Regions from separate parts of the Homo sapiens genome. Here regions 2 and 3 are each linked to region 1. The links come from fine-mapping of genetic effects on gene expression. A gene starts in region 1. Each other region holds a variant in brackets. All regions are shown on one strand. Distances are from middle to middle. Region 1 holds the start of G3BP2 (G3BP stress granule assembly factor 2). Region 2 overlaps CDKL2 (cyclin dependent kinase like 2). Region 3 has its middle 18 kb from the start of SCARB2.

Region 1 (2,765 bases):
CAAAGCGGCAAAGGGCCATCTTAAGAAATCTGCTTTTAGAGACGCAGGAAAAATTCTATCAGATTCCACTAACAAAATCAACACAATCTAGGGAAGCTTCTGTTCCTTTCTGTCCCCCCATCCCAACAAAAGCGGGAACCCATCCCCCAAAAGCCATTCCCGAGTCAATAAGGGATCGTCTGCATAAGAGGGGGACGAAGAAGGCGCACGTTACAGTTCCAGTATCCGAACACGTTCGGATTAAACCCGCGGTGGCAGGGAGAGGGGGGTTGGTCAAACACGACGGAACACTAGGTACTGGGTAAGCGAAGCGGCGGCTGCCTTCAAACCCGGATTCTGTTTCCGTGCACAGAAATGGTGCCCGGAGGCCGCCACTTTCGCATCTGCGTCGCTTCTGCCTCCGTCGACACAACCTCTTTTCCCCTCCCCCCACGGGCGGGGTGGCGACGGCCTCTCCGCTCCGAAGGAACAAGGTACAAGAGCCGAAAACGATTCGGAAACAGGAACGGTGGGCTACCCACCCTAAAACATCCCCTCCAGAAAGCCTGCTCCCACACTTCCTGTATTAAGCTTCCATCAGCGCGCCTTCGGGAGCTGCTGCGTGCCTCCCCCCCCACTTCGCCACCTCATCCCCAATAAACCTCAACCCCACCTGTGCACTCGGAGCCCTCTGCCCGCAAGACGCTCGCGGGTCACCTCCCTTCCCAGGCGGCCTCCCACCCCTCACCTAGAGGAAAGACTGGTCTTCTCTCACGCACACACGGCACCGTAGGGAGCCGGCAAGAACAATGTCTCTGCCGCTACACCTCCGGCTCCCGGGCTCACACACCGGACGATTGCCTCGCGCCGCGGAGCGCGAATGGAATGTCCCTTTCCGACCACCACACCGACCTCCCCTCCCGGCGCCCGTACACACCTCCAGCCAACGGCGGCGGCGGGTACGTCGCGCGGAGGTCAGAAGAGTCGCTGAGGACCGGGTGCGGCGGGTTCTTATTGCTCGCCGCCCCCTTCCTCCGACAACTCGGAAGCCTCGGAAGCCGGAGAGCCGCGAGTTCGTCTGCCTCACAACCACCTCTTCCCGGGCGCCAGGCGCTGCGACGTGCGACAAGGACCACGGACGTCCCGCCCCCTTTGCCACCGCCCCCTCTTATTGTTTTACCCCTGCCGAAAGGGCCAGGGAACCCCCGAGCACAGCGTCAGCCAATCACGCATCTCCTCCAGAGCCGGACCCAACCTTCCCGTGTCCCTCTGCGGAGCACGCGCAGTACGCTGCCGCGCTCGCACACGCTCGCGCCCGGAAAGCCGGGGAACCGGAACCGGCCTAAAGCCAAGATAAGAGTCCGCTGATTTGACGTCACAAGCAGGCTGCCTTTCTCCGGTCCCGAGGCTCCAGCCTTGCCGCCCTTCTTCCTGATCGCGCAAGCGAGAGCTGGTTCGCAGCAACGCAGTGTCTTTTGTAGACTGATATTCTGGTCCTTTTTATTAATGGGAAGGAGGGAATTTAGTAATCTCTCTGAATAGGTGTCTGCAGGTTGCTGCTGTAGACGAGCTTAAAATGCAGCCGGTGATTTCAGCTGTTTGCACACTAAACTCACCTACATTGTTTACTTAACCCATCCTAGGTTTTAAGCCCCATTAAGAGGCCCTGCAGTAAAGGAAGAACATGACGTGGGCTTTACAGAGGGGGAAAAGACTATTTCTTTGTGTCCTTGTTACGAATTTAGGCATGGCTAAATATCAGTAGATACTAAAGCATTTTACATACTAAAGCTAAAAGAAGGCCTGAAATACAAGGATTACAGTCCTGTTCTAGCTCTAAGCCCAGACTTGCCCCCAGGGTGAGACACTGGTGACCTTGTTTCATGGACAAAGCCAAGCCAAATCTTGTAGTCAAGGAAGCCACTTTGCATCTTAGGTCTGGCAGTGTTTTCAGAGAATACCGAGATAGCACAGGAATTTTGGAATGAAGGACTGAGGAAGTGTTCAAAGAAACGGAAAGGAAAAAATACATTAATGAATGCTTACGAACTAAACATGGTGGACGCAAGCATGTACATCTCATCAGTTTTCTTCGCAATCCTGTAAGGGCAATTTTAAGGTATTTGGCATGTTAAGACAATACGTCAAATACCTTAAATATTGGCAGAGGCAATGCCAACATTAGGGCCTCCAAAGTCTACAATATCTTTACCTTTAGACTGCTTAAAGATACTGTTATATGCAAAATATTTGGGCAGACCATCACTTTAATGAAATCAACCTGATGTTTTTCCTTAAAGCATCAAAATACATTACATGCCGGCTGTCCTTTAATATACTGGGCTTATATACCAGGCATTCTTGTAATTATACAGCCTTCTGAGCCTCACAGTAACCCTATGAGCTAGTTGCTATATGTATGTACATATATATATATATATATATATATTTTTTTTTTTTTTTTTTTTTTAAGATGGAGTCTCTCTGTGTCGCCCAGGCTGGAGTGCAATGGCACGGTCTTGGCTCACTGCAACCTCCGCCTCCCGGGTTCAAGCGGTTCTCCTGCCTCAGGCTCCCTAGTAGCTGGGACTACAGGCGCATGCCACCACACCCAACTAATTTTTATATTTTTAGTAGAGACGAGGTTTCACTATGTTGGCCAGGCTGGTCTCGAACACACCTGACCTCGTGATCCGCCCGCCTTGGCCTCCTAAAGTGTTGGGATTACAGGCGTGAGCCACCGCACCCGGCCAGTAGTTGCTATTTTTATGCCCATTTTATAGATG
Region 2 (2,765 bases), 64 kb before region 1:
TAAAGGCCTAACCTAGGTTGGTGCTCAGAGGAATGGGAAGGAGGAAATGCAGTTTAGAAATACAATAAATCAAAAATCAATAGGCCGCACGCAGTGGCTCAAGCCTGTAATCCCAGCACTTTGGGAGGCCGAGGCAGGCAGATCACTTGAGGTCAGGAGTTCAAGACCAGCCTGGCCAACTTGGTGAAACCTTGTCTTTACTAAAATACAAAAAAGTAGCTGGGCGTGCTGGCACGCGCTTGTAATCCCAGCTACTTGAGTGGTTGAGGCAGGAGAATTGCTTGTACCCAGGAGGTGGAGGTTGCAGTGAGCCAAGATCGCACCACTGTATTCCAGCCTGGGCAACAGAGCGAGACTCCATCTCAAGAAAAAAAAAAAAAAAGAAAAGAAAGAAATAGAATTTAGAAGAGTCGTAGATATTTTGTAGATATTTTGTTTGAACCTGAGAATTTAAAAGAATGGTGGTTTCATTTTCAAAATTAGAAAAGCCTAGAGAAAGTTAGTTTTAATGGAATAATTAGTTTAGTTTTAATCATTGGACTTTTGGGTGGAATGCTGAGCACCCAAGTATAGACATTCATCAGGCAATTAGAAATGTAAAGAGTAAACAAAAACATTAGTGATTAAAATTTCTAAAGGAGAGACTTTGTAAGAATAAAACAGGATGCTGATATTCAGATAATATTTAAAAATCTGGCCAGGTGCGGTGGCTCACGCCTGTAATCCCAGCACTTTGGGAGGTTGAGGTGGGTGGATCATGAGGTCAGGAGTTTGAGACCAGCCTGGCCAACATGGTGAAACCCCGTCCCTAGTCAAAATACAAAAATTAGCCAGGCACTATGGCAGGCACCTGTAATCCCAGCTACTTGGGAGGCTCAGGCAGGAGAATCTCTTGAACCTAGGAGGGGGAAGGTTGCAGTGAGCCGAGATTGCGCCATTGCACTCCAGCCTGGGCGACAGAGACTCCATCTCAAAAAATATATATATAAAAAATATTATATAGATATATATCATATATGATATATTATATATATAATATATATATATTTAAAAATCTACAGCTAGGCAAAAGACATTATTAGGCCTAATTCTCTAATATAAGCAAATTGTATTTTGAAAACTAAAAAAGATAGATTTGTTTTAACTCTTTCGGAAGACCAGCATCCTAAACGGCAATCTGCCATTGCTGAGCACGTTGTATAGGCTACCAACTTTATTACCCTAGATATCAGTGATGAGGACACAGGTCCAGTCTCAGACCACCTGTGCTGT[A/G]GTAGAAAGAGCTAAACTGGGGCCGGGTGCGGTGGCTCACACCTGTAATCCCAGCACTTTGGGAGACCGAGGCGGGTGGATCACGAGGTCAGGAGATCGAGACATCCTGGCTAATATAGTGAAACCCCGTCTCTACCAAAAATACAAAAAATTAGCCAGGCGTGGTGGCAGGCGCCTGTAGTCCCAGCTACTCGGGAGGCTGAGGCAGGGAGAATGGCGTGAACCTGGGAGGCGGAGCTTGCAGTGAGCCGAAATCGAGCCACTGCACTCCATCCTGGGCGACAGAGCGAGCCTCCATCTCAAAAAAAAAAAGAAAAAGAAAAAAAGAAAGAGCTAAACTGGGAGTCGGGAGACCTGGGTCTAGTCCCTGGTTTTCAGTACAGCCATAGACAACTCAATCTTTCTAAGTCTATCCTCTCGGCCCACAAATGAGAGGGCTAAAGTGCATGATCACCATGTTTCTTCCCAACTCTAATACCTTATAACTTAAGTAACACAATAGATTCTAAGTATAACCAAGATGATATGAGTTGAATTTTTCCTAAAATCCATCATTGCAGACTGGGGTGGCCAGAGAAAGTACTATGAAAAGGGTAGGCTCTGACATGGGTCTTTAATACTAGATATAACCTAAATAAATTATGATACCTAGTAATTTCAGTAAAAAAAGTCGTTTAGGGTTCTACAAACCTCATAATGTTCTGTACTATTTGGGTCAAACTTCAATGGGCAGCAATCTTAAATTTGTTTTTAAATATGTTATTCAGTCTGGCTCATAAAGGATTAAAATCATATTTATATTTTAAAAAATTCAAGTGCTCACATATATAGATACATTTAAAAATGAATAATATATTTGAGAATAAATGTTCTCATTTTCTTAAAGTCAAGCATCTCATCCTTATGTGTACATATATGTGTTTATATATATGTATGTATGTATGTATATATCTGTGTGTTTTATTCCAGCCACTACCGTTATTATCTGTCTACATTAAAAAGAGAAATGTTAACTGCCCAGAAAACAAAACCTTAAAATATACCTTTAATAATAATGGTAATAATAGCTGACACTTGAATACTTATGTGTCAGGCACTATTCTAAATGTTTTTCATGTTTTAACTTATTTTATTCTCATAATAACCCTAAGGATAGGTGCTATTATTATCTCCATTTAACTAGGGGCTGGGAGTAAGGATTGGAGAAAAGGTACTAGGGTTTGAGAAGAAAGAGGGTAAGAAATCACAATCTAGAAGAGTTTAAGAGTAAATGGAGGCTGGGCACAGTGGCACACGCCTGTAATCCCAGCACTTTGGGAGGCCGAGGTGGGCCGATCACTTGAGGCCAAAAGTTCAAGACCAGCCTGGCCAACATGGCGAAACCCCATCTCTACTAAAAATACAAAAATTAGCCAGGCATGGTGGTGCACACCGGTAATCCCAGCTACTTGAGAGGCTGAGGCAGGAGAACCGCTTGAACCCAGGAGGCAGAG
Region 3 (2,765 bases), 560 kb after region 1:
AGAATGGGGATATAAGCTTGCCCTAAGTTGGCCAGGATATGTATTTGGGTTTCTCAGGTAATGGTCAGGGCCATGAAGCTCCCAAAAGTTTATGTCTTTTGTGATTGGCTATTGGGATGGGTAGAGAAAAACCATGAGGTGGGTGCAGGGTTAGACAAGTCTGAGCTCAGACTCTCCTTGGGCAGGGCTTGCTATGGCCACTGTAGGGGATGCTGGGTGGTTCTTGGGCTAATGGGGTTATGTTCCAGAGGGGATTATGGCCACCTCTCTCACTAAGAAAGTGGGGGAAAGCCAGTAACAATAGGCCTAACTCAACTCCCACACAGCTGGTGAGGCTGGTCTTGCTCGCTCTGTGCCCTCCTAACAGTGGCAAATTAATCTCCAGGAAGCCCAGGGAGAACTCAGACCTTGCCCCAGGCTATAAGCTTCCCTGCTGAGAAAGCAAGCATCACTTTCAGGCCTCACCTGCCCCTCCCTGTCTGCCCACACGATGGGCCATGGCTCCTGTGCTTCTTTCTGCAGCAGTTCCTGTTCAACACCTGGATTCTGCTCAAGAGAGTTTATGCCCAATAAAATTATTATAAAGTTCAGTTTGAAGCTTCCCTTCTCTTCCTAGCAGATATCTGGGGTATGTGAGAGAGAGAGGAAAGAGCGTCCTCTTTCCCTCTTCTGTCCTTCCATCCCCGAGTCCAGGCGACCTTGGCAGTCACCACCATAGGTGTTAAAATGACTTACACTCATGAAGCAGGGGGTTTAGGGGGTGAAAATCTGCCATTCTTACCCACATATGCCCTATCTCCCTTATTGTCAGTAGCCTTGAATTCCCTAGACCTCATTTATGCCATGGACACTAACGTGGCCTTTATCCATCAAACAGGAAGCTTGGGCATGGCTTAATTGGCAGGAATCAGCCACGATCACCTGTGCTGTGCCTTTTAACCTCTGTTGTTGTCTACCTCTGGATCCCTTAGATCCAGTTTTCTTTCCTAGGGCTTTGACCCAAAGCTTGGAATTGAGTTTGGAACAAAAATGTGTCTCAGGGGAGTTGCATGGACTCCCTATCATAAGCTGCATGCTAAGGTGAAACCGTAGAACTGAGTCCTCCTCCAATAAGGGAGAGGAAAGGATGTCTTGTGACACACCCAGATGACTGATAGCTATAGTTATGCTTGCTAAGATTTGGGTGCATGATGCTTGGCTTTTGTTAGCTCCCTTGGTCTTATTTTCCCAAAGGAAATGTCCAAGTGATGGGCATCCTATTCATTCCCATCACCTGGCAGGGTTTTCAGGATAATTCCTCAGAATTAGAATGTTGATCCAGATTTTCACATTACCCATCCCTCTTGTTCTTTCTGAGCTGCAGCTGGAGACTGCCGGTTGGTTCACAGGAACAAGTAGGATTAGTCTTAAAATGTAGGTAAAAACTTAAAAACAACTAGTGAGTTTAGAATTTAATGACAAATATATG[A/G]TAGGTTTTGAAACACGATTTCTCACTCGCCAGTCCTCATTTTTGTTAAAAACAAACAAACAAACAAATCATGACAGGACTGAGTTGTTTGCAAAATAGACTTTACATTTTTATACTTGGCCTGATTATTTGCATAAAGTACAGCAAGAATTATTATTTCCGCAAAGGCCTTTCGGATTGGCTTCGATGGAAGTTTGTTCCACAAGGAATCAGATAAGACCTTTTAAAGCTGAGCCCAGGCATGGGTTTATCCTCAAATACCTGTGAGTTTGGTGATCCTCTCCTCTTAAGGTTCCAAGATAAACTTGGAGTTCCTGGACCTGTTAAAAGTGGCATTCTTTACTGACCATAGGAACCCTGTGCAGGGACTGTGTAAACAAGGGTATGAGGCCAGTTTCCCCACTGGGATTTTATTGGCGCTGCAAGTCAAGATTGACTCCTTAAAGGAAAGCATACCCTTCCAGTCAAAGACTTGGTAAAGTAACCAGTTTTTCCAATTGTGTCCCGTTGCAAGAGAGAAGTGGATTCCTATTGCACTGATGTAAACAACTATATTGCCATAAGTTATGAATACTCACAGATAGTTTTCAAATTTTAGAGGAACCAGGCAGAGAGAAACAAACATGCTTCAAATTTTGGTTACAGAAGTATACCTTGCTTAATTATTAAAGGCCATAAATAGTTCAAAATAAGTTTCCTTGACTCTGAGAAACAAAACAAGGATGAGCAATATTCCAAGCAAAAGTCAAAAAGATTGCTTTAGTTTTCTGAGTTCAGTCCATTTAGTTAATTCTTGCTTTGGTTGATATTCGTGAACATTTCAGCTCTTCATGAGTCCTGTACATTTTCCTTTATTCCAATGTCACAATCTCCAAAGTTATCAGAAGCCTGTATTTGAGAGCACCTGTTACAGTTCTACGGCTTATTCTAAATCATCTCTTGAAAAGGATTAAAACAAGACAACAATTGTCTCTGAATAGCAAAAATGTCCAGGGTAGTTACACTTGGAAACACAATTGACAAAGGAGTTTGGTTTTCTCTGTGGTTTACAATAAGTTAACATAACAACCTTAATTATGATTGGTAGCATAACTTAGACATTAGAATTTTAGAAAGTCCCATACAGTTTTGGAACATGTATTAATATTACTCACAAAAATATAACCTAAACAAGATTGAACATCATTATGACAATTTCATTTACCTAGACATGTCAAATCATCTCGTTTGCCTCTCTTTTCTGGATGTTTCAGGGGCCCTCTGGACTATCTAAAAGCCAGGTATCAGAAAAGACAAT

Evidence for each region.
Region 2: its variant is fine-mapped to the expression of G3BP2 in whole blood (INTERVAL, PIP above 0.99).
Region 3: its variant is fine-mapped to the expression of G3BP2 in cerebellum (GTEx, PIP above 0.99).

The regions. Positions count from the first base shown.
Region 1 is chr4:75,672,292-75,675,056 of GRCh38, forward strand. G3BP2 (G3BP stress granule assembly factor 2) reads right to left here and starts at 1,120. Exons shown (of 12, transcript NM_203505.3): 1 at 917-1,120. RefSeq lists enhancers at 1-977, 410-649, 930-1,219, 1,956-2,765.
Region 2 is chr4:75,608,630-75,611,394 of GRCh38, forward strand. The region is part of intron 3 of CDKL2 (cyclin dependent kinase like 2); the gene reads right to left. Among named protein-coding and RNA genes, the nearest start is that of CDKL2, 21 kb to the right of the region's middle. The variant A/G (reference allele first, on the strand shown) is at 1,273.
Region 3 is chr4:76,230,011-76,232,775 of GRCh38, forward strand. It overlaps a transcript of SCARB2 not described here and a transcript of FAM47E not described here. Among named protein-coding and RNA genes, the nearest start is that of SCARB2, 18 kb to the left of the region's middle. The variant A/G (reference allele first, on the strand shown) is at 1,469.